Linked DNA regions of Homo sapiens: all the other regions are linked to region 3. Evidence: fine-mapped expression QTL. A gene starts in region 3. Each other region holds a variant in brackets. All regions are shown on one strand. Distances are between the middles of the regions.

The links. PIP is the estimated chance that this variant, and not a neighbour inherited with it, causes the effect. A credible set is the group of variants that fine-mapping cannot tell apart.
Region 1: its variant is the best candidate, but not a certain one, in a credible set for the expression of KLHL6 in blood mononuclear cells (TOPMed, PIP 0.63).
Region 2: its variant is the best candidate, but not a certain one, in a credible set for the expression of KLHL6 in whole blood (INTERVAL, PIP 0.77).

The regions. Positions count from the first base shown.
Region 1 is chr3:183,504,940-183,512,387 of GRCh38, reverse strand. KLHL6 (kelch like family member 6) reads left to right here. Exons shown (of 7, transcript NM_130446.4): 3 at 3,880-4,329. Among named protein-coding and RNA genes, the nearest start is that of KLHL6-AS1, 40 kb to the left of the region's middle. RefSeq lists an enhancer at 3,361-4,560. The variant G/T (reference allele first, on the strand shown) is at 3,798.
Region 2 is chr3:183,512,645-183,520,092 of GRCh38, reverse strand. The region is part of intron 2 of KLHL6 (kelch like family member 6); the gene reads left to right. Among named protein-coding and RNA genes, the nearest start is that of KLHL6-AS1, 32 kb to the left of the region's middle. RefSeq lists enhancers at 977-1,477, 3,484-3,763, 6,671-6,720. The variant T/C (reference allele first, on the strand shown) is at 3,205.
Region 3 is chr3:183,551,865-183,559,312 of GRCh38, reverse strand. KLHL6 (kelch like family member 6) reads left to right here and starts at 3,607. Exons shown (of 7, transcript NM_130446.4): 1 at 3,607-3,952. The coding sequence starts at 3,660. KLHL6-AS1 (KLHL6 antisense RNA 1) reads right to left here. Exons shown (of 2, transcript NR_046687.1): 2 at 6,987-7,260. RefSeq lists a silencer at 6,578-6,747.

The sequences.
Region 1 (7,448 bases), 47 kb after region 3:
ATTATTGCACCTCAAATGAATAATAATTGTTTCATTATCACCAATAGAAACAACTACTGTTATCAGGTCTTATGTGGCCTCCCAGAGTAGTCTAAGTTCCTAGAAATATCTACTTAATTTTCCTCTCCTCTTCCCCTCACGCAAACGCTGGCATGGTGATCGTGGTATTTTGCACTGGGGGCTACCATTTAAGTGAGTTTCCTTTCAGCTCTCATAGATGTCTCTGTGAACAGGGCCAGATAGGGTTCTGGTGTCCAGTTCTGAGGGCTCACGAGGCTTGGTCTTTGTTGCATATTTTTAGTCTTTGAACTGAAAATCTGCCAACGACTAAACAGGTGTTAGCAGCCTTGTTCACAACTGTTTCCACGGTTGCTCATGCAAAGAGCAGAGCTGCCGGCAGTTGAGACCAGCAGACATGGGGTTCTGAGGCAGAATTCAGGCCTTCTGCAACTTTGCATTGTGTAGGGAAAAGAGAGATCAGACTGTTACTGTGTCTATGTAGAAAGGGAAGACATAAGAAACTCCATTTTGACCTGTACCCTGAAAAATTGCTCTGCCCTGAGATGCTGTTAATCTGTAACTGCCCCAACCTCTTTGCCCCAACCTTAAGCTCACAAAAACATGTGTTGTATGGAATCAAGGTTTAAGGGATCTAGGGCTGTGCAGGATGTGCCTTGTTAACAAAATGTTTACAGGCAGTATGCTCGGTAAAAGTCATTGCCATTCTCCAGTCTCAATAAACCAGGGGCACAATGCACTGCAGAAAGCCGCAGGGACCTCTGCCCTGGAAAGCCGGGTATTGTCCAAGGTCTTTCCCCATGTGATAGTCTGAAATATGGCCTCGTGGGATGGGAAAGACCTGACCATCCCCCAGCCCGACACCCGTGAAGGGTCTGTGCTGAGGAGGATTAGTAAAAGAGGAAAGTCCCTTGCAGTTGAGATAGAGGAAGGCCACTGTCTCCTGCCTGCCCCTGGGAACTGAATGTCTCAGTATAAAACCCGATTGTACATTTGTTCAGTTCTGAGATAGGAGAAAAACCGCCCTGTGGCGGGAGGCGAGACATGTTGGCAGCAATGCTGCTTTATTATTCTTTATTCCACTGAGATGTTTGGGTGGAGAGAAGCAAAAATCTGGCCTACGTGCACGTCCAGGCATAGTACCTCCCCTTGAACTTATTTGTGACACAGATTCCTTTGCTCACATGTTTTCTTGCTGACCTTCTCCCCACTATCACCCTGCTCTCCTACTGCATTCCTCTTATTGAGATAGTGAAAATAGTAATCAATAAATACTGAGGGAACTCAGAGACTGGTGCCGGTGAGGGTCCTCCGTATGCTGAGCGCTGGTCCCCTGGGCCCACTGTTCTTTCTCTGTACTTTGCCTCTGTGTCTTATTTCTTTTCTCAGTCTCTCGTCCCACCTGACGAGAAATACCCACAGGTGTAGAGGGGCTGGCCCCCTTCAGCATTGACCCTCGGAGAAATGCTTTATTTATTTATTTATTTATTTATTTTGAGATGGAGTTTTGCTCTTGTTGCCCGGGCTAGAGTGCAATGACACGATATCAGCTAACCGCAACCTCCGCCTCCCAGGTTCAAGCATTCTCCTGCTGCAGCCTCCTGAGTAGCTGGGATTACAGGCATGTGCCACCACGCCTGACTAATTTTGTATTTTTAGTAGAGACGGGGTATCTCCATGTTGGTCAGGCTGGTCTCCAACTCCTGATCTCAGGTGATCTGCATGCCTCGGCCTCCCAAAGTGCTGGGATTACAGGCGTGAGCCACCGCGCCCGGCCTAAAAAATGCTTTTTAAACTGACAATCCTATGTGATCTGACACAGAAAGATAATATTTTGCAATAGAGGTTGATCCAAAAAGTCAGGGATGTGTTCCCTGGAATGCTCTGGAGTAAAGTCCAGAGCCTAGGTCACCTTGGTCCACTCTTAGAACCAGTCCTGCCCCACTATCAACCTTCAGGCTCGATAGCCCCACTCCCCACAGCTCCTGCCAACCCTCCCCAGTCAGGTCTGTCCTGTCCCTACTCTCACCAGGACCTGCCTTCAGAAGGCCTCCCCCACCCCCACCAGGTCTTGCCCCCTCAGCCTCCCCTTTCCTCTCCCCCCATTAATCGATCAACCCATGGGCACCAAGAACTTGACCCTATAAGGAGTCCAGTAGACGGGGAAGGGAGCTAGGAGGTTGAAATTGTTCAAAGCTAAGCTCCAGAGAACAACAAATAAGAATGAACCAATGCATTTGAGACATGTCATCTGTAAAATGGATATTACAAAATATAATGGATATAACAGTGCTTTGTCATCTGTAAAGTGCCCTACAAGCACAAGGGACTTGAATTTTTATGAGGATGGTGATAACTTAAAAGTGGGACCTGAGAGCCAATCAATAATTTTACAAATTGATTTTTTAATGACAAAAGCGGTACGTATTCATTTTAAAGGATATATAAATAAATAAAACATATAAATAAACAAAAACAGAAAAATTCTCATAGTCTTCTTAGAGTGTCATACCTTCTATTATTTATATAGTATATTCCCTGTCCATCCCATGAGACCTGTTTCTGTGGGAGAACTATGGTTCCCTTGATGACAAATTTTGCCATGTGACTTACTCTGGACGGTTTTGTGTAAATGGATATAGCATGCGCCCCCTCTGAGCAGAAGCTTTAAAAGCCTCTGTGTGGTTCTGCCATCTTTTTCCCCTTCTGTCATGGGACCAGCATGTCTCAGGTAAGGGCTTTCCATCTTCCTGGCCCCTGGAATGAAGAGCCCCGTGAAGAACACATAGTGGGTAAGAGGAACATTTATTGTAAGCCCCTGAGACGTGAGGGTTGTTTGCTGCTGCAGCAGAATTTGCCTTAAGATACCTGATAACCCAAAGAGATAACAACCATTAATATTTTGACCTACATCCTTTCATCTTCTTTCTATGACTTTATTCTGTGTATGTTTTCTTTATAAAAATAAGGTCACAATGTACATATGATTTGTGACGTGCTTTTCTCATTTTATCTGCAAATATTTCACTTATAGCTCTAAAAAATAAGGATTCTTCTTCAACATAAACATGAAACCATTATGGCACCTAAAATGAATCATAATTGTTTCATTAGCACCAAATATTAGTCATTGTAAACATTTCTCCAACTTTAAAAAATATATATTGTTTAAATCAGGAATCCAAATAAGATCCATACTTTGCAATTGGTCAATGTGTCTTAAATCTCTGTTTATCTTTAGGTTCTCCCTCTCCTTCTCTCTCTCTTTTATCCCCTTGTAATGTATTTGTTGAAGAAACTGAACAAGTTGTTCAGTAGAGTTTTCCACAATCTGGATTTTGCTGATCATGTTCCCATGACGTCTTTAGCAGGTTCCTCTTTCCCTGTATTTCCTGTAAATTGCTGAGTAAATGTAGAGGCTTAATCAGATCCAATGAACAGATTTTAAAACTCAATACATTATGAACATTTTCTATTTCATTTAATATTTTCTACAACATGTGTTTTAAGTATCTACAGAGCTATCGACTGTATGAATGAATTATATGTATTTAGCTAGTCCCGTAAGTGTCTCATTGTTTTAAGTCGACTGTATGAATGAATTATATGTATTTAGCTCCTCCCGTAAGTATCTCATTGTTTTGTCGACTGTATGAATGAATTATATGTATTTAGCTCGTCCAGTAAGTATCTCATTGTTTTAAGTCTACTGTATGAATGAATTATATGTATTTAGCTCATCCTGTACTGTTGGACATTTAGGTTGTTTCCAATTTTTG[G/T]CTAATACACATAACTCACTGATAAACCTCCTTGTGGACTCACCATTTTCTGGCCTCCTTTCCACCCTTTCTATTTCATCAGTTCCTGCGGATGGTGGATGCCTGTGCCAGCTTCCTCACTGAAGCCTTGAACCCAGAAAACTGCGTTGGAATACTGAGGCTGGCTGACACACACTCGCTGGACAGTCTAAAGAAGCAGGTTCAGAGTTACATCATTCAAAACTTTGTGCAGATTCTGAACTCTGAGGAGTTTCTTGACCTGCCCGTGGACACTCTGCACCACATCTTGAAGAGTGATGACCTTTACGTGACCGAGGAGGCTCAGGTGTTTGAGACCGTGATGAGCTGGGTCCGGCACAAGCCATCAGAACGACTCTGCTTACTCCCCTATGTCCTCGAGAACGTGCGCTTACCGCTTCTGGACCCGTGGTACTTTGTGGAGACGGTGGAAGCAGATCCTCTCATCAGGCAGTGCCCAGAGGTCTTCCCGCTGCTCCAGGAAGCCAGGATGTACCACCTTTCTGGCAATGAGGTGAGTAGAAGATAAGAGGTGCTATATTTAACCAGCGAAGTAAGGAGTTAGCTAGGGGCTCACAGAGATGCAAGCAAAGCGGATTCAAAAATCCTTAGGGCATTAAGGAGAAAACACTGCCCTGTTCATTGCTGAGTCGGTCAGTTCCAGAAGCCCTGATTCCTGATCTATGAGGCCGATCCCACGTGTTCAGACAGTTACTGAGCGCGTTAGGTGAGATGTAGAAATCACCCAGCACCATGCCTGGCCCGTGCTTCCTCTTCCCAGTTGTGGAAGGGTGGGAGGTTGGGGGTCACACTGCACGCACAAACAAGAATGTGCCCTGGGCCGGGCCTGGTGGCTCACACCTGTAATCCCAGCAGTTTGGGAGGCCCAGGGCGGGTGGATCACGAGGTCAAGAGATCCAGACCATCCTGGCCAACATGGTGAAACCCTGTCTCTACTTAAAAATACAAAAAAATTAGGTGGGCATGGTGGCATGCACCTGTAGTCTCAGCTACTCGGGAGGCTGAGGCAGGAAGATCACTTGAACCCGGGAGGCAGAGGTTGTAGTGAGCCGAGATCACGCCACTGCACTCCAGCCTGGGCAACAGAGGGAGACTCTGTCTCAAAAAGCAAAGCAAAACAAAACAAACAAAAAACAAAAAAAACAAGAACGTGCCCTGTCTAGTCACTATTCCATGGGGGTGCTGCTCTTCCTTGCCCACTCTGGTGAAATCTTGTGTCTCTTGTATATACTCTGACATCACTTTGATTTAGACTCTCACCATCTGAATTTCTGGAAATTTCTCAAAACTCATCTTCCTCCCCCAAGTCTGGCCTCCCTCCAATTTATTCACCAGCTGAAAGATCTGAAACTCAAGTCTGATCATCTTGCTCCTGGGCTTGCCTTCTTCATTGGCTCCCCATCACTTTCAGAATAAAGCCCATACTTCCTGCCTACGTTCCCAGAGCCTGGTCTTGCATCATTAATCTCCTGCCTGCTTCTCTAGTGTCCTCTCCAACCTCCCACTTCTGCTCTAGTCCTAATGCACAGCTTGTGGTTCCCCAAAGTGGATGTGCTTTTTCTGCCTCCAGGTCAATCTGAATGTTGTTCAAATGCTTTTCTCTTCTTCATCTAGCTGACTTCTACTCCTACTTCAAAACTCAGTCCAAGCATCACTTTCTCCAGAGACTTCTCCTTTTATTTATTTATTTATTTATTTATTTATTTATTTATTTATTTATTTTTGAGAGGAGGTCTTGCTCTGTTGCCCAGGCTGGAGTACAGTGGTGCAATCATAGCTCACTGCAGCCTCGACCTCCCAGGCTTAAGTGATCCTCCCACCTCAGCCATCCAAGTAGCTGGGAGTACAGGCATGTGCTACCACACCCGGCTAATTTTTAAATATTTTGTAGAGACAAGGTCTCACTATGTTGCCCAGGCTGGTCTTGAACTCCTGAGCTTAAGTGATCTTCTCATCTCAGCCTCCCAAAGTGCTAGGGTTACAGGTGTGAGCCACCACACCCAGCCACTCTCCGTGTTCTCATAGCACTTGGTGCATTGCTCCATCACAGCACCAACTGCTGCATGGCAATGATTTGAATTTATTATATGTAAATATCTCTAGACTGGGAGCTTGTTATAGTAGGAAATATGTCTTATTGCACTTTACATCTCTAGATCTTAGAAGAGAGTCCTGAGACTGCTATATAGTGAATGAGTAATTAGTAAATGCTTGTTGAATGATTAAATGGGTACTACGAACGGTGAATAAACATGTCATTTGGATCTACCTGGTTCTCCTTAACAATTCCTGAAGAAGATTTTTCTTCAGAACTTTATAAAGACAAGAACAAATTTAGTGGAGAGGAAGTAATGATATAGGGACAGTTTGTTAACAGTTTGTACACATGAACACCCATACATATATCTCACTATGCAGTGGTTCTGGGATTAGCTACCAGGCTTTCTTCATTAGGCCATTGGTAGAAGCCTTAGCCAAACGTGGCCCAGGAATTGTCTGTCTGAGGTTCTTTTAGAGTTTCTCCCTTTTTCTGTGTGTTCTTTTCTAGTTTTTTTGTTGTCCTTAGATCCACTGTTCATTCATTCACTCTGCAAACATACCCTTAAATGTTTAGTAGAATTTACCAGAGCCTGGTGTTTTCTTTGTGGAAAGTTTTTAAACTATAATGTATATCTCTTTAATAGATATAGGACTATTTAGGATCTCTGTTTCTTCTAGAATGAATTTTGATAGTTTGTGTCTCAAAGAATTTTTTCATTTAATATAAGTTGCTGAATTTATTGGCATAAAGTTGTTCACAGCATTCCTTTATTATCTTGTTAATACCTGCAGAATCTATAGTGTTGTCACATCTCTCATTCCAGATATTGGTAATTTGTGTCTGCCCTTTTTTTTTTTCCTGATCAATCTGGTTAGAGGCTTATCAATTTTATTGATTTTTCTCAAATAACTAATGTCTAGTTTCATTTGATTTTCTCTATTGTTTTTCTGTTTTCTATTTCACCTATTTCCACTCTGATCATTATTTTCTTTCTTTCTGCTTAGTTTGGGTTTAATTTGCACTTATTTCTGTAGTTTCTTAAGGTGGAAGTGGAGGCCACTGATTTGAGACTTTCTTTCTAATATTGGCTTTCATGCTATAAATTTCCCCCTAAAAACTACTTAAACAGCATCCCATGTATTTAAGCACGCTATGCCTTCATTTTTTGCAAATAAATCCTGAACACCAATTCCTTGCCAGATATGGCACCAGGTACTGCAAAAACAGTCTGTGTCTTACCCAGGTACTGCTAAACAGTCTGTGTGTCAGAGAAGATGGGACATTTAACAAATGAAGGGTGATGAGTGGATTGATGGGGGGAGCCTAGGAAACCACATAGGTCCTATTCTATGCTGGATGTCTAGCAGACAGCCTGCATATAATTGCAGACAGGTTTCAGTCTCCGTAACTGCCCTCAGTTCAGCATTTATTCAGTGTCTCCCATGGAATACTACACAGCCATAGAAAAGAATGCAATCATGTTTTTTGCAGCAACATGGATGGAGCTGGAGGCCATTATCCTAAGTGAACTGACACAGGAACAGAAAACCAAATAATGCATGTTTTCACTT
Region 2 (7,448 bases), 39 kb after region 3:
TTTCCCACGCTAATTACTGCTCTAGCATCTGTTGCCATGGGTTAGTTTTGCCTGCTTTTGAATTTCATATTGTTCTTTTTGAGTCCTAACTAGTACAGAGGGTCTGAATCTTAGGCTACAAACTCAAGTGTGCCAAAAAGAATGTGATTTAACCTATTATTTTTCTGTTTTCTTGTTTTTTTTTTTTTTTTTTTTTTGAGACAGGGTTTTGGTGTGTCACCTAGGCTGGAGTGCAGTGGCACAATCATAGCTCACTGCAGCCTTGAACTCCCAGGCTCAAGAGATTTTCCTACCTTGGCCTTTCAAGTAGCTGGGAATATAGCCATGCACCACTATGCCCGGCTTTTTATTATTATTATTATTATTATTTTAGAGACAAAGTCTCTCTCTGTTGCCCAGGCTGGTCTTGAACTCCTTGCCTCAAGCAATCCTCCTGCCTCAGCCTCCCAAAGTGCTGGAATTACAGGCATGAGCACTGTGGTCGTCCAAACCTGTTATTTTTCTATCATTGAACTTAATTTCTATCCTGAGCTCTCATTCTACCAGTGGCAGAAATCATAGGTAGTGACACAGGAAAGTTTAATCAATTCAGGATTCGGGTTGCTTATATAGTTCCAGGAAACATTTATACAGTGCCAGGGCATTGAAAAAAGAGGCATCTGTCCTGGGCTTACCATGGTCATTTGCATTATTGGTCCATGTGGCACCCACTGGAGCACCTGTGTTCCCATCAGTCTCTCTCTGATTTTTCATTCCTTTCTCACTGACATCAACAAGTCCCCAGTCCTACCTGATTCTGGTCATTGGTCCTTGCAGGTCACTTTGCATTCTCTCTGTCCTGTTTGCAAAGCCTCTTCAGGTCTGGCAATCCTCTCAGCTACATCTGTGCCCCTCTCAAGACAAAAGACACTTCCATTCCCTCTCCTTTACAAATCCAGAGCTACAGGGGACGTGGAGCAACTGCCACAGGGCCCCTTTGTCTGGAAACAATACACTCTCATCTCATCTGCTGCTGCCATACCGGACTGCTGCTTTTCTGCTTTCAGCTCGGCGATCAAGGCACATGTTCTTTTGTTCTCAGATTCACAACCTATAAGGGACGTTTAGCATCCCCCTCACTCTGGAGATTTGGCCTGGGATGGGAAGCAAGGCATCATCTCGGGAACCCACCCCTGCTTCTCACTCTGTTGTTAGACAATCTCTCTCTTGTCCCTCTTCCTTGCCTGGGAATCTTTATTGCCTCCAGGGTGGGAAAAGCTGACTCTTGCTTTGTCATCCGTTCTCTCACGTCTCCTGTTTTGGTATAAACTTTGTACCCAGACTCTTTAGGACTCTGGCTTTTGAGGCTGGAAGGGGTAGGTTCTTACCACTAACTGGTATTTCTTTCAAAACCACTTCTCTAGTTTAAGTTCTGAAAGTCTATTTAGAAACTCAAAAGCCAAGAATTATCTTCTTTTGCCTGCTCTATCACCCCTTCCCTGAGTAAGCCTGTGCTCGGTTGCTGCCTATAGGTTGTAAAATACAGGAAGTGGGGTGTGGGGTTTTTAATTGTAATGAAAATCCATATCGCTACCAGATTCTGACTTTAACTGCTCCCTAACTACCACAAATTACTAAGCATGTTCTAAGTGCAAGGTGTTTTGTGAGAAGCTGTCAGGAGAATATAAAGATTAAAAATGTGGAGTACAGATCACATTTTTGTAGCAATTTTGTCCCCTACATATCCCATTTGATGTTGACCATGTCTCTGTGGGCGAGCAGGCTAGGTAGAACCATCAGTGTGAGCCTGCGAGGTGAGTTTTATGTTCTTAGCACTTTCCAGATGAGAAAACTAGCTGAGAGAGAGAGAGTGTTCAGCTCATCAAGTGGTGGAGCTATGGGTGGAATTTTCAAGTAAACCCAGAACTTCCAACTCCATATATCCACTTCCCTCCACTATCCCTGAAAGATTCTCAATGAGCCTCCAGGCCATTGGGCAAACCAAGTAGAGCCCAGGGCAGAAAGGAGGGGACATTGAATTGGACCTCATAGGATGGTGGCAGTAGGATTGGGAGAAAAGTATTCCAGGCAGAGAGAACCTGGAAGTGGACTTGTTTCAGCCTTCTCTACCCACCACCCCACCTATTGCAGCTGCCTGTGTTCACGGGGCTGCTTCTCAGCACTTGTCTTCTGCTTCCATTCCTGCTCCTGTGCCCTACGCACACACACACAAACCACACCCTGAGCATCAATCATGTCCGAGATGCAATCATTCTACTTAATCTTTACAACAGTGTTTCTCCCTGGTCCTTACCTCATTGCTGGGCTGAATCACTGAGCCCCAGCCATGCCACTTGCCCCTTGAATATGTGGGTCACATGTATTGCCTGTTGTGCCCTGCTAGCCTGCTGGGGCCACCACCGTCTTCTCTGGAAACTCAGGGGCTGTTTGCTGATTGAACACAATTGTAAGCTTGCCACACTGCTGGTCTTTTCCCCAGTCCACTTCCACAGTTGCCTCAGTCCCTCAACACCTGCCCTGCCTTAGTGAGCAGGTCTTTTGCAGGTCTTAGTTCCTTCCTTTTCTGCCCACTCCATGAGGCTTCCAGGAACCAGCAGGTTTCTCAGCCAAGTCTAGAGCAAGGACTGAAAGGAGTGGCTAGAGGGAGCAGAGAATGCCCCTCCTGGGGGACTGTGAGACATACTGCCACGGGAACGGAGCTGGAGCATCGCCCGGGAGAGGGGAAGAGAGGTGAGGATGGAAGATTAGAATCAATGGTAATTCACAAATTTTTAGCATGAAGACCCCTTTTAAACACCAACACAGACCTCACAGGAGAGGAACTTTACTTTTAGTGTCTATTGCTGGAGAAGAAAAGTTTTGACAAAAAATTTACAATTGTCTGGGCACAGTGGCTCACACCTATAATCCCAGCACTTTGGGAAGCCAAGGCAGGCAGATCACTTGAAGCCAGGAGTTCGAGACCAGCCTGGCCAACATGGCAAAACCCTGTGTCTACTAAAAATATTATATAAAAATTAGCTGGGTGTGGTGGTGCGAGCCTGTAATCCCAGCTACTCGGGAGGCTGAGGCACAAGAATCACTTGAACCCGGGAGGTGAAGGTTGCATTGAGTTGAGATCACACCATGCACTCCAGCCTGGGTGACAGCATGAGACTCTGTCTCAAAAAACAACAACAAAAATTACAATGAATTCAGAAATAC[T/C]TTGAAATAAATTTAAATGTTATTAATCTCATCACACCTTCACACATGCTGATTTGTCGGAGCTGAAGGTAAGAATATCAATGTCTTTATAGACCCTTTGCAATAACGCCAAAGCCACTTGGACACCATGATCAACAGAATTGCTGATGTGGACTAAAATAGGACTTCAGTGATTCTGAAGTGGATTTGAAGGCACCTTGAGGGAGACATGGAGTCACATGGGTGAAGTCCCCTAGGACCTCAGATTTTGGAGAACGTCATGGGGAAGCAGAGGAGGGGCAGTGGAGATGAGGAACAGGCAGTGCTTTCTCTTGGAGGCAGACACTTCTTGTGGGAACTGCAGCCACGTCTCAAGTGGTTTCTTTGATTGTATTTTTAGTCTCCTCATTTGAGAGTCAGGTGGCTGGCTGCAACCTTTTGCTCACATGTCCCCCCAAACAGGAAGCTGGCTGTCTTTTGCCATTATCTGTCATCTCTCAGCTCTGACAAACAAGTTCATGTGTCATCGGGACAGGCCGAGACAGAAAATTTACCTTGAAGTCTTGAATAATCTTGAATGTGAAGAAGCAAAAGCATATTTAAAAGAAACCCATTTCTGGTTCCCATGATTGCCCTGCGCATCATCAGTTTCCCAGCCATTGGTTGGGATCATGTGATGTTGCCCTACACCCCTCACACTAAAAGTGTTTATTGAAGTATATTTTGGAGGAACTTAGGCAACTTGGAGATCCCCCACCTGCCTCTGTCCTCATAAAGCCTCTTCAGACTCTCCTGGCATTTTGTTAGCTCAACAATGCAACAAGTTACAAAGGCACCACGATGCTGACTGGAGCATCAACTGTACTGCCTCCTAGCAGTGTGAACTTGCATCGCTCTTTGAATTCTCTATTTGCTCCTTTATACAAATGCTAATTCTAACACCTTCCCTTTTTTACCTGTTAAATAAAATACACTTGTTAAAAAATAAAATTTATTTGTTAAGTGAAATAATGACTGGGAATGTGTCTAGCACAGATCTTGGTGCATACTAAGTGATAAATATGTCCTTCCTCTGTCCCTCTTTCTCTTCTTTTTCCAGACTTTCTGCTAGATGCTGCTAGAAATAAATACCCAAGTATGACCTAGAAGCTGCTTTGAGATGCTTGTCTCAACTGACCTTAGTACTCTGGGTGCTCCACAAAAGGGGAAAGCAAGGTGCCCAGTGGAGCACAGAGGAGGGAGGGATTCCATGTTGGGGAATAGGAGAAGCCGTCAAGGAAGAAGTAGCTTTTAAGAATGAACTTCATGAATAGGTAGGATTTCTCTACAATTCTTCTTTTCCTTTTTATTTTTAGTTTTTTAGAGACAGAGTCTTGCTCCGTCACCCAGGCTAGAGTACAGTGGTGTGATCATGGCTCACTGCAAACTTGAACTCCCAGGCTCAAGCAATCCTCCCTCCTCAGCTTCCCAAGTAGCTGGGACTATAGGCATGCAACACCACAACAGGCTAATTTTTACATTTTTTGTAAAGACGAGGTCTCACTATGTTGCTCAGGCTGGTCTTGAAATCCTGGGCTCAATTGATTCTCCTACCTTGGCCTCCCAAAGTGCTGGGATTATAAGCTTAAGCCATTGTGCCCAGCCCTTAAACAATTATTGACCCAGAATTTTAAATGTCCAGAGGTGGGGTTCCAAGCACCGTCTAGTCAAGACTCTGGCTCTCTTCCTCTCTGGATCTTTTGACTTAGCTCTCTCTCTTGTGTTGGTTTTGTACTTAGGTGGAAGGATACCAGGGAGTAACTCACCTGTCCCCTGCCAACTAAGTTCCCAGAAAAATGCCACATGTGCAAATGTTCACATACTATTGTAGGGGTTCACAGACTTTCTGGATCGATCCATTGATCCCAGATGTAATAACTCTGAATCAAGAAAATAGCCCTGGCCGGGCATGGTGGCTCATGCCTGTAATCCCAGCACTTTGGGAGGCCGAGGTGGGCAGATCACTTGAGGTTAGGAGTTCGAGACCAGAATGGCCAACATGGTGAAACCCCATCTGTACTAAAATACAAAAAAATTAGCCAGGTGTGGTGGCGTGCCCCTGTAGTCCCAGCTGCTTGGGAGGCTGAGGCAGGAGAATCACTTGAACCTGGGAGGCAGAAGATGCAATGAGCCGAGATCGTGCCACTGTACTCCAGCCTGGGCAACAAGAGAGAGACTCCATCTCAAAAAAAAAAAATTAAATTAAATTTAAAAAAAGAAAGAAAACAGCCCTGTGTGGATAGAGTCATGGCTATAATATTTATGTCTTCCTTCTTCTTGAGGTAAACTTACAGGGGGATTTCTCTGTTGAAAATGGGGTGAGCTATCCTGAGTCTTTCCTTAAAAAGTTGGGCTCTGGAGTTGGGCTTGTCTGGGTGAGGCGCGTAGGATCATAACAGATGGTGATGATGAGGAAAGGCAGCTCAGGCCGAGAGATGGCAGGAGCGTGGAAAGGCACTGCAACAGGGCAGCTCCAGGACTGCTTGGAGGAGGTGAGGAGATGGGTGCAATTGTGGCTAGAGTTCTGAAAGGGAGGTTCCTGGTGATGACTGACAGCCAGATTGTGGAAGATTGAAGGGGTGGGGGTAGGACTGTCCTTGGTTTCAGGCAATGGAGTCCCTGGACTCTGGTCCATAGCATTTATCTCAAGTGTCCTTCCACACTCCGTGTTGTATTATTTGGTTAGCGTCTGCTGCCTCCACTGGTCTGTCGGCTTCAATGAGCGCAGGCGCTTTGTCTCTGCTCACCTCTGTACACCCAGCACTAGTTGGGAGCCTCCTACATAATATTAATAGATGCTCGCAGCCATAAAAAAGGATGAGTTCATGTCCTTTGCAGGGACATGGATGAAGCTGGAAGCCATCATTCTCAGCAAACTAACACAGGAACAGAAAACCAAACAACGCATGTTCTCACTCATAAGTGGGAGTTGAACAATGAGAACACATGGACACGGGGAGGGGAACATCACACACTGGGGCCTGTCGGGTGGTGGAGGGGAAGGGGAGAAAGAGTATTAGGACAAATACCTAATGCATGCAGGGCTTAAAACCTAGATGACGGGTTGATAGGTGCAGCAAACCATGGCACACGTATACCTATGTAACAAACCTGCACATTCTGCACGAGTGTCCCAGAATTTAAAGTAAAATAAAAAAAAAGAAATACATGCTCAATTCACATTCGGTCCATACACAGGTAGCTGGATGGATGAATTGCCAGGTGGAGTGAAGATCAATGCTTCTTCTAACAAATGTGAGCTTCAGTACTTGATTTGATTCTCCTCTGTGGTTTCCTTCTTTGCTCATCAACAGCCACCAAGCAGGAATAGGAACCGGCATCTTGTTGGCTAGTCCTTCCTGTGTCAGGGCAGATCAGGTCATCTGAGCTACCCAGTGACGTGTGCAAATGACGTTTGGCATCTGCCAAGCCTTTGTCCCCCACACACATTTTGTGACCTGCAGCAGCTTGAAATAGTATAAAAAACATGCATTTTTGGAATCAGAGATGACTGGTCCAAACTTTGCTTCTATCTTTTATTAACTGTAAGTCTCTGAGGAAATTACTTCTCTGAATCTGGTTTCCTCAGGGATGATAATAGATACCCTTTTCATGGCATTGTGGTGAGGATTGAGTAACTCTTACAGTTAGTATGTAGAGTCTGGCCTATAGTAAGTGCTCTTTTAGTGTTTACCTTTTATTTTCTCATTGCGTCCTTTAAAAATCACAATAATGTGTTTATTTTACGTATTTTTTCCTGAGTTTATAATGTTCATGCTCAGTATAGTAAAGTTGTCATACAACAAACTCTAAAAAAATTAATAACTTTATCTATAACCACTGCTAACATTTTGTATGTTACCTTCTAGTATTTTCTCTATAAATGAGAAAGTTGGTCTATTTTAGGTAGGTATTTCTTACACACAATTGGAGAGGATAGGAAGTGGTGAAGAGGGTAAAGTAATTCTCCCTTTCTTCCCTGAAATTGGATGGGAATTACAGTGTGAGCCACTGTGCCTGGCCTCTATGACTTTATTTTATATATATATTTATTTATTTATTTATAAAAATAGGATCATAGTCCCGGCCTGGTGGCTCATGCCTGTAATGCCAACACTTTGGGAGGCCAAGGTGGGTGGATCACCTGAGGTCAGGAGTTCGAGACCAGCCTGATCAACATAGAGAAACCTCATCTCTATTAAAAATACAAAATTAGCTGGGTGTGG
Region 3 (7,448 bases):
GGATGGTCTCGATCTCCTGACCTCGTGATCTGCCCGTCTCGGCCTCCCAAAGTGCTGGGATTATAGGCGTGAGCCACCGTCGCCAGCCGACCCTCCATAGTTCCATTGAACACAGCTTAACATATGACTTTTTTTTGCTTTTTTGTTTTGTTTGTTTGTTTGTTGAGACAAGGTCTCCGCTCTGTTGCCCAGGCTGGAATGCAGTGGTGAGAACATGGCTAACTGCAGCCTCCACCTCCTGGGCTCAAGCAATCCTCCCGCCTCAGCCTTCCAAGTAGCTGGGACTACAGATGCATGCCACCATATATGACTAATTTTTTTATTTATATTTTTTGTAGAGATGGGGTTTTGTCATGTTGCCCAGGCTGGTCTGGAACTTCTTGGCTCAAGCAATTTTCTTGCATTGGCCTCCCAAAGTGCTGGGATTACAGGCGTGAGCCACCACACCTGGCCCAAGCATATAACTTTTGGAAGCTGACCTTGGCCGCCTGCCAGGTCTCAATTTAAATTCATGACTATTAATCTTAAAAAGGGCGAGAAAGGAAAGATTAGGTCAGATCAGAAAGTAAAAATTTGCCCTCCCATTCATCAGGCTAGGAAGTCAGACACAGATGAAACATTAAAAAGAAACAACGTTTCTTCAAAGATTAGGTCAGATCGGAAAGTAAAAAATCTGCCCTCCCATTCATCAGGCTAGGAAGTCAGACACAGATGAAACGTTAAAAAGAAATAACGTTTCCTTAAGTGACTCCTTGCAATTATAAATGTGTCATAAGGATACCCTTCGTGGGTGACTACTTATTCTTACTGAGAAAAATTGTTTTCTAAAAATCACAGACCATCAGAAACTTTGTTGTTTGCCATTGTGTCAGTAAGAATGAGATCTCATAGTTGTCTGGAAGATCTAAATCACTTTGACACTGGGAAGCAGTCTCAATTTCCAACTCAGATACGGGGCTTCTGAATACAACATTCCACATCTATCTCAATTTTGTAGTTTCCAGGGAGAAAAGACTTTGGGTCCACTGTAAAGTCTAGACTTAATGTTTATCCTTTTACAGATAGTCCCACTGTGCTTTGAACCTATCTTGATACTGTTCATTTACATTTAACCTAAACTTGGGGCAGGTGCGGTGGTGTGAGCCTGTAGTCCCAGCACTTTGGGAGGCCGAGACGGGTGGATCGCTTGAGCCCAGCAGTTCAAGACCAGCCTGGCCAACATGGCAAAACCCTGTCTCCACTAAAGATACAAAAAATTAGCCAGGTGTGGTGGTGCATGCGTGTAGTCCCAGCTACTTGGGAGGCTGAGGCAGGAGAATCGCTTGAACCTGGGAAGCGGAGGTCGCAGTGAGCTGAGATCGCACCACTGTACTCTAGCCTGGGCAACAGAGTAAGACTCCGTCTCAAAAACAAACAAACAAACAAACCTAAACTCCAAATTTTCTTGTAATTTTTATTAGAGTAAAATAAACCTATAAATGTATTCGGAAAGAATTGGTCCTTTTAATAATATTTAGTCTTTCCATAAAGGAACTTGGTATATTTATTTAAGTTTTCTTTCGAAACTCTTAGTAAAGTTTGTTAGTTTTCTTTATGTTGCTGGTTGCTGTTATTGCTAGGCATTTACATATGTTTTATTACCATTGTGAATGGCATTATTTTTCCATGACTTTTTTTTTTTTTTTGAGGCAGAGTTTCGCTCTTATTGCCCAGGCTGGAGTGCAATGGCACAATCTCAGCTCACTGCAACCTCCACCTCCCGGGTTCAAGCGATTCTCCTTCCTCAGCCTCCCAAGTAGCTGGGATTACAGGTGTACGCCACCGCGACTGGCTAATTTTTGTATTTTTAGTAGAGATGGGGGTTTCACCATGTTGCTCAGGCTGGTCTTGAGCTCCTGACCTTGTGATCCCCCTGCCTTGGTCTCCCAAAGTGCTGGGATTACAGGCATGAGCCACCACGCCCGGCCGTCAGGTTTCTTTATATGCTCCATTATAATCTTTTGGGACCACAATTGTATATTCAGTCCATCATCGATTGAAATGTCATTGTGCTGGGCATGACTGTACTTGTGACCGTTAATTTTAGATGTCAAGTTTACTGGGCTAAGAAATACCTAGCAACCTGTTAAAGCATTACCATGGGGCGTGTCTGTGAGGTTGTTTCCAGGAGAGATTAGTGAGTCTGAGTGGACTCGGTAGAGAAGATACACTCTCAGTGTGGGTGGGCACCATCCAATCAGCCAGGGGCCCAGAGAAAACAAAAACAGAAGAAAGGTCGATGTCTCTATCTCCTGAGGCTGGGATACAGTCATCTCCTGCCTTGAACAACAGGACTCCAGGATCCCCTGCCTTTGGACTTCAGGACTTACACCAGTCTCCCCACCCCCTGGATTCTCAGGCCTTTGGCTTTGGACTGAGAGTTATACCATCTTCTCTGGTTCTGAGGCCTTTGGACTTGAACTGAGCTCTCAGCAGTCTGTCATGCGACTTCTCAGTCTCCATAATCACGTGAGCCAATTCCCCTAATAATTTCCCTCTGCTATGCCTCTCTAGGTATCCTTTTGGTTCTGTCTCTCTGGAGTCCATCATCGACTGAAATATCATTATGCTGGGTATGACTGTAATTGTAATGGTTAATTTTAGATGTCAAGTTTGCTGGGCTAAGAAATACCTAGCAACCTGGTAAAGCATTACTGTTGGGCGTGAGAGAACGCTAACTGATACGCTCCTATAACTTCCCCAGGATATCATGGGATTTTAATAATGACAGTTATTACTACTTAACTGAGACATGCAGAGGTAATGAAAATACTTCAGGATCCACCGTTAGATGCACGGTCAGTAGATGTTGGGCTAATCTGAGACGTGCTATGGCAATTCGGTGTAGACCCACCCTGACTCATCCTCTGAGAAGATGCTGTTGATGGAGTTTTGGAAACCATTTCTTCTGTGCCCCCAAAGCATATTCGAAACAATAGACATTTTTTTTGGTGGGGGAAGACATGAAAGTTTGCCATGACGTTGTTTTCCCCTGGGTAGGGAGGAGGATGAAGATAGACGATCTGCAGTGCCGCCAGAAATGAGAATGTCAGGGATAAGTGGGGTTTCCATGGTTTACAAAGCACGGTTGTTGGATCATTGTGGGGTCTCAGACTCCTGGGAGGAGGAAGTGGGAGGATCATAGACTGTCTCCTGTCCATCCCCTCGCTGACGACTTGGGTTATTGAGCCACTAGGAGTACAAATGTGAAGCAGGAGGATTATAGACTGTCTCCTGTCCATCCCCTCATTGACGACTTGGGTTATTGATAGCATTAGGAGTACAAATGTAACAGCCACCACCGGAGGCTTCCTGCTCACGGATATGAGGTGGGAGATGCACCAAAATAAACACACAGCACTCACAGTGGACTCTGAGAGGACACTCCTCTTCCAGAACCCCCTCCCACACACCTATTCTAAGTAATTTCTAACCCTGTGATTACTCACAGAAAGAAGAAGAATAGAAGTTGCTGGCATTTGTAGTAACAGGATGAGAAAGTGCGAGACTTCCTGTTATGTGTGTGTGACAGCTGGTGATAAGTGGAGGGCCCTGCACAGGAAATCCGCTCAGCTCCTGCAATGGGGCCTGCCTGACACTTGGGCGCTCCTTCAGTCTCGATGTTGATGGCAGGACAAAGGGGCGCCTGGACCATGGGTGATGTGGTCGAGAAGAGTTTGGAAGGGCCCCTGGCACCTTCTACAGATGAGCCCTCCCAGAAAACAGGAGACTTGGTCGAGATCTTAAATGGGGAAAAGGTCAAATTTGACGACGCGGGACTCTCCTTAATTCTTCAGAATGGCCTGGAAACCCTGCGAATGGAAAACGCTCTGACAGATGTCATCTTGTGTGTGGACATTCAGGAATTCTCCTGCCACCGCGTGGTGCTTGCCGCAGCCAGCAACTATTTCAGGTCAGCATGCCTAGGACCAGAGTCAAATTGGGTGCAAGTTGCAAGGAAGAGGTGTGTTAGTGTGAGAGCCCAATCTTGAACAGTTGGCCATGATATTTATGGTTTACATATATATTAAGGCTTGTGTGTCTACTTAAAATATAAGAAAGGACACTATCACACTTTATTTTATTATTTATTTATTTATTTATTTTTGAGACGGAGTTTTGCTTTTGTTGCCCAGGCTGGAGTGCAATGGCGCAATCTCGGTTCACCGCAACCTCTGCCTCCTGGGTTCAAGCGATTCTCCTGCCTCAGCCTCCCGAGTAGCTGGGATTTGCAGGCATGCACCACAACACCCGGATAATTTTGTATTTTCAATAGAGATGGGGTTTCTCCATGTTGGTCAGGTTGGTCTTGAACTCCCGACCTCAGGTGATCCACCCGCCTCCGCCTCCCAAAGTGCTGGCATTACAGGTGTGAGACGCTGCGCCCGGCTTATCACACTTTAAATTTTAGGATTTAGGCCACATTAAAAGAGAGATTGGCATCATTTAAAAGCAATGCTTACATTCTATAGTAAACCTTTTGTGTATATTTCCTTGTTCCAAAGGATGGAAAATTACTGAAGTCATGGGGACTTTTTTCCCCCTTGGTCTGACTGGTGTTGGAAACATAATGTTGTCTTTGTTAATCAACAGACATAGAGAAAAAGGATGTGGCCCCTCTTCTGGAGTTGTCAAATGACTTGTTACAAATTAGGGGCTTCTTTATGTGTAGGCAGTGTGGGGAAAGGGAAAGCAGTTACAAAGATGCTTTAGATGGGAGAGGCCTCTAGTTACGATAAACTGGTGATCTCATAGTGGGAAGGCCTGAAGTCAGGAGACTTGGTTCCTTCTTGACAGTGAAACTTTAGGCAAGTCACAAAGTGCTCTGAATGTCTGTTTCATCATCTGTAAGGTGAGCACAATGATGATCACCTTTCAGGGCTGTCATAATTAAACAAGAGCGTGAAAAGGGTCCTACACAGTGTCTAGCATATAGTAAGTAGATGCTCAATATATCTTTCTTGGAATTCTTTTTCTGATTCTGCTTGATTCAGCTAAGGATGACTTATTGAGTGTTTCCCATGAGCACGTCCCTGGGGTAGGAATTTTATAGCGCTGGGAACCCAGTGAATACACCTGATCCAGTGTTCTCCATATCAGCATGGACATGGGGGAACCAGCCTGCAAGGGCAATGTGGATAATGAAGAAAGTATTTGGGAACTTGAAAAGAAATACCCTTAGAATTCTTCTTAATGAGATTCTTCTTAACTCTTGATTCTGGCTGAGGAAATTGAAAACGATTAACCTATGAAAGTATTATGGAAAGCGTTTTCTTTCTTTCTTTTTTTTTTTTTTGAGGTGCTTGGGGGGAAACGTTTCTTTGTAATTCATAGAGCAGGATCAGCAGGTTGCTGTGGGACTCATTAGGTCTCCTGTGTTGATAAGACAAGGGGATATCTGGGTTTGAGGGAAGCAGTGGCTGCTGTGTGCCAGACAGACATAGTTATCTGATTTTATTTTTGTAACAGCATGATGAAGGTGGCTGATATTTCACAGATGAGGAAATGAAAACTCAGCATTATATATCTGGTCATTGCTGGAGCAGGGACTGGGTATGTTCTGGAAATCCTTGTTACTGCAATGCAAGCTGCCACTAGGTCTGGGACTTCATTCCATGGGAAGTGTGTAAAATATAAAGTGTAAACACAGCCATCAAAATGGGTTGATATAAACACATTACTTTCTCCACCAACCTTGATCACGTGCTTTCACGTTGACTGCAGCCCCTCTCAGGAGTGAGTGAAGTCAAGTTAGCTCAATGCCCTGGGGACGCACATTTAGGTTGATCCTTTTGTATCCCTTGCTATCATAAAATGCATACCTGGAAGCAGTTTTGTTAGCGGGTTGGCCTGGCTGTGGACCAGGCCCGCTGGCTGTGTGCCCTCGAGTTGATCACTGGTCTTCTCTGGTTCTTGGGTTTCTCATCCTAAATGGGAATTTGGGCTTGGGTCCTTCCAGCCCTGCTGATCCAGGATACTTAGGGAAAGTCTCTGCCGGTCGTCAGAGGAGGCAACGGCAATGAGAAGCTGGAGAACATGAGGGTGAAGGCATCTGACTGTGTATACAGAGCCTCTCCCAAAACTGCCTGGTCATGAGAGGAAATTCCTTCAATTCTTCTCTTCAGAGAAGTGACTTTTGCTTCTTCTCTTGGGATTTTCAACGTGACTTTCCTTCTACAATGAATACTGTCCTGGAGACAGGATTCTTTCTTCCGGTGCTACTATTCCTATCAACTCCTGTTTGTGGAGCGCTTACTGTGGGCCAGGCCCTGTAGCTTCTGTATCACATACTCTAGTCCACTCCACCCTCACAACAACCTGACAAGGCAGGGAGTCCTATCCCCAGCCTACCGACGGTGAGCCAAAGTCCAGAGTGTCACAGCAAATAAAAAGTAGCCAAGCTGGGATTTAGACCTAGGACTGACGTTAAATCTGACACACTCTCTCGCTTTGTGTCTGAGGTTTTGAAAGGGGTTCTTCGTATGCTCAGGTTTAGGGAGGTCAAAGAGTCTCTCTGTCTGAGAGGCTTTCTTTTTTTTTTTTTTTTTTTTTTTTTGAGACGGAGTCTCGCTCTGTCGCCCAGGCTGGAGTGCAGTGGCACAATCTCTGCTCACTGCAAACTCCGCCTCCAGGGTTCAGGCCATTCTCCTGCCTCAGCCCCCTGAGTAGCTGGGACTACAGGCACCTGCCACCACGCCCGGCTAATTTTTTGTATTTTTAGTAGAGACGGGGTTTCACTGTGTTAGCCAGGATGGTCTCCATCTCCTGACCTCGAGATCCACCCGCCTCGGCCTCCCAAAGTGCTGGGATTACAGGCGTGAGCCACCGCGCCCGACCAGTCTGTGAGGCTTTCAACACAGCTCTCTGTGTTTTGGAGGGCCTGGAAGCTGGTTATAAAATTATGTCATTTTTTTCCTTTATTCACTGAGAAAATAATTACTTTCCACTAAGGGACTGACAATAGTTTATTAAACAGTCCCCTACGGACAGACATCTGGACTATTTCTAATCCACATTTTGCTATTACAAACAATGTTGTAATGAATAACCTGAAACATGAGTTTTTTTCATATGCATTTCTTGAAGGGGGTTTGCTGAGTCAAATGCATCTGCAGTCTTAGCGGTTATTGCAACTTCTCTTTCATTGGGGTTGAATCATGTTGCGTTCCCCCACGGCATCACCAAAAGAGGGTGTCATCCAACCGCTGAAGTTTTACCAATCTGATAAATGAGAAAGAATATCTCAATTTAGCTTTAATTTGCATTTTTCTTATTTTTAGTAAGATCAAACATCTCTTCGTATGTTTAAGGGGCATCTGCAGTTCTTTTTTTGTTGAACTGTCTCTTCACTGCCTTTCTGTTTTTCATGTATTTTTTTAAAATTAAATTTTATTTTTTATTAAAGATAT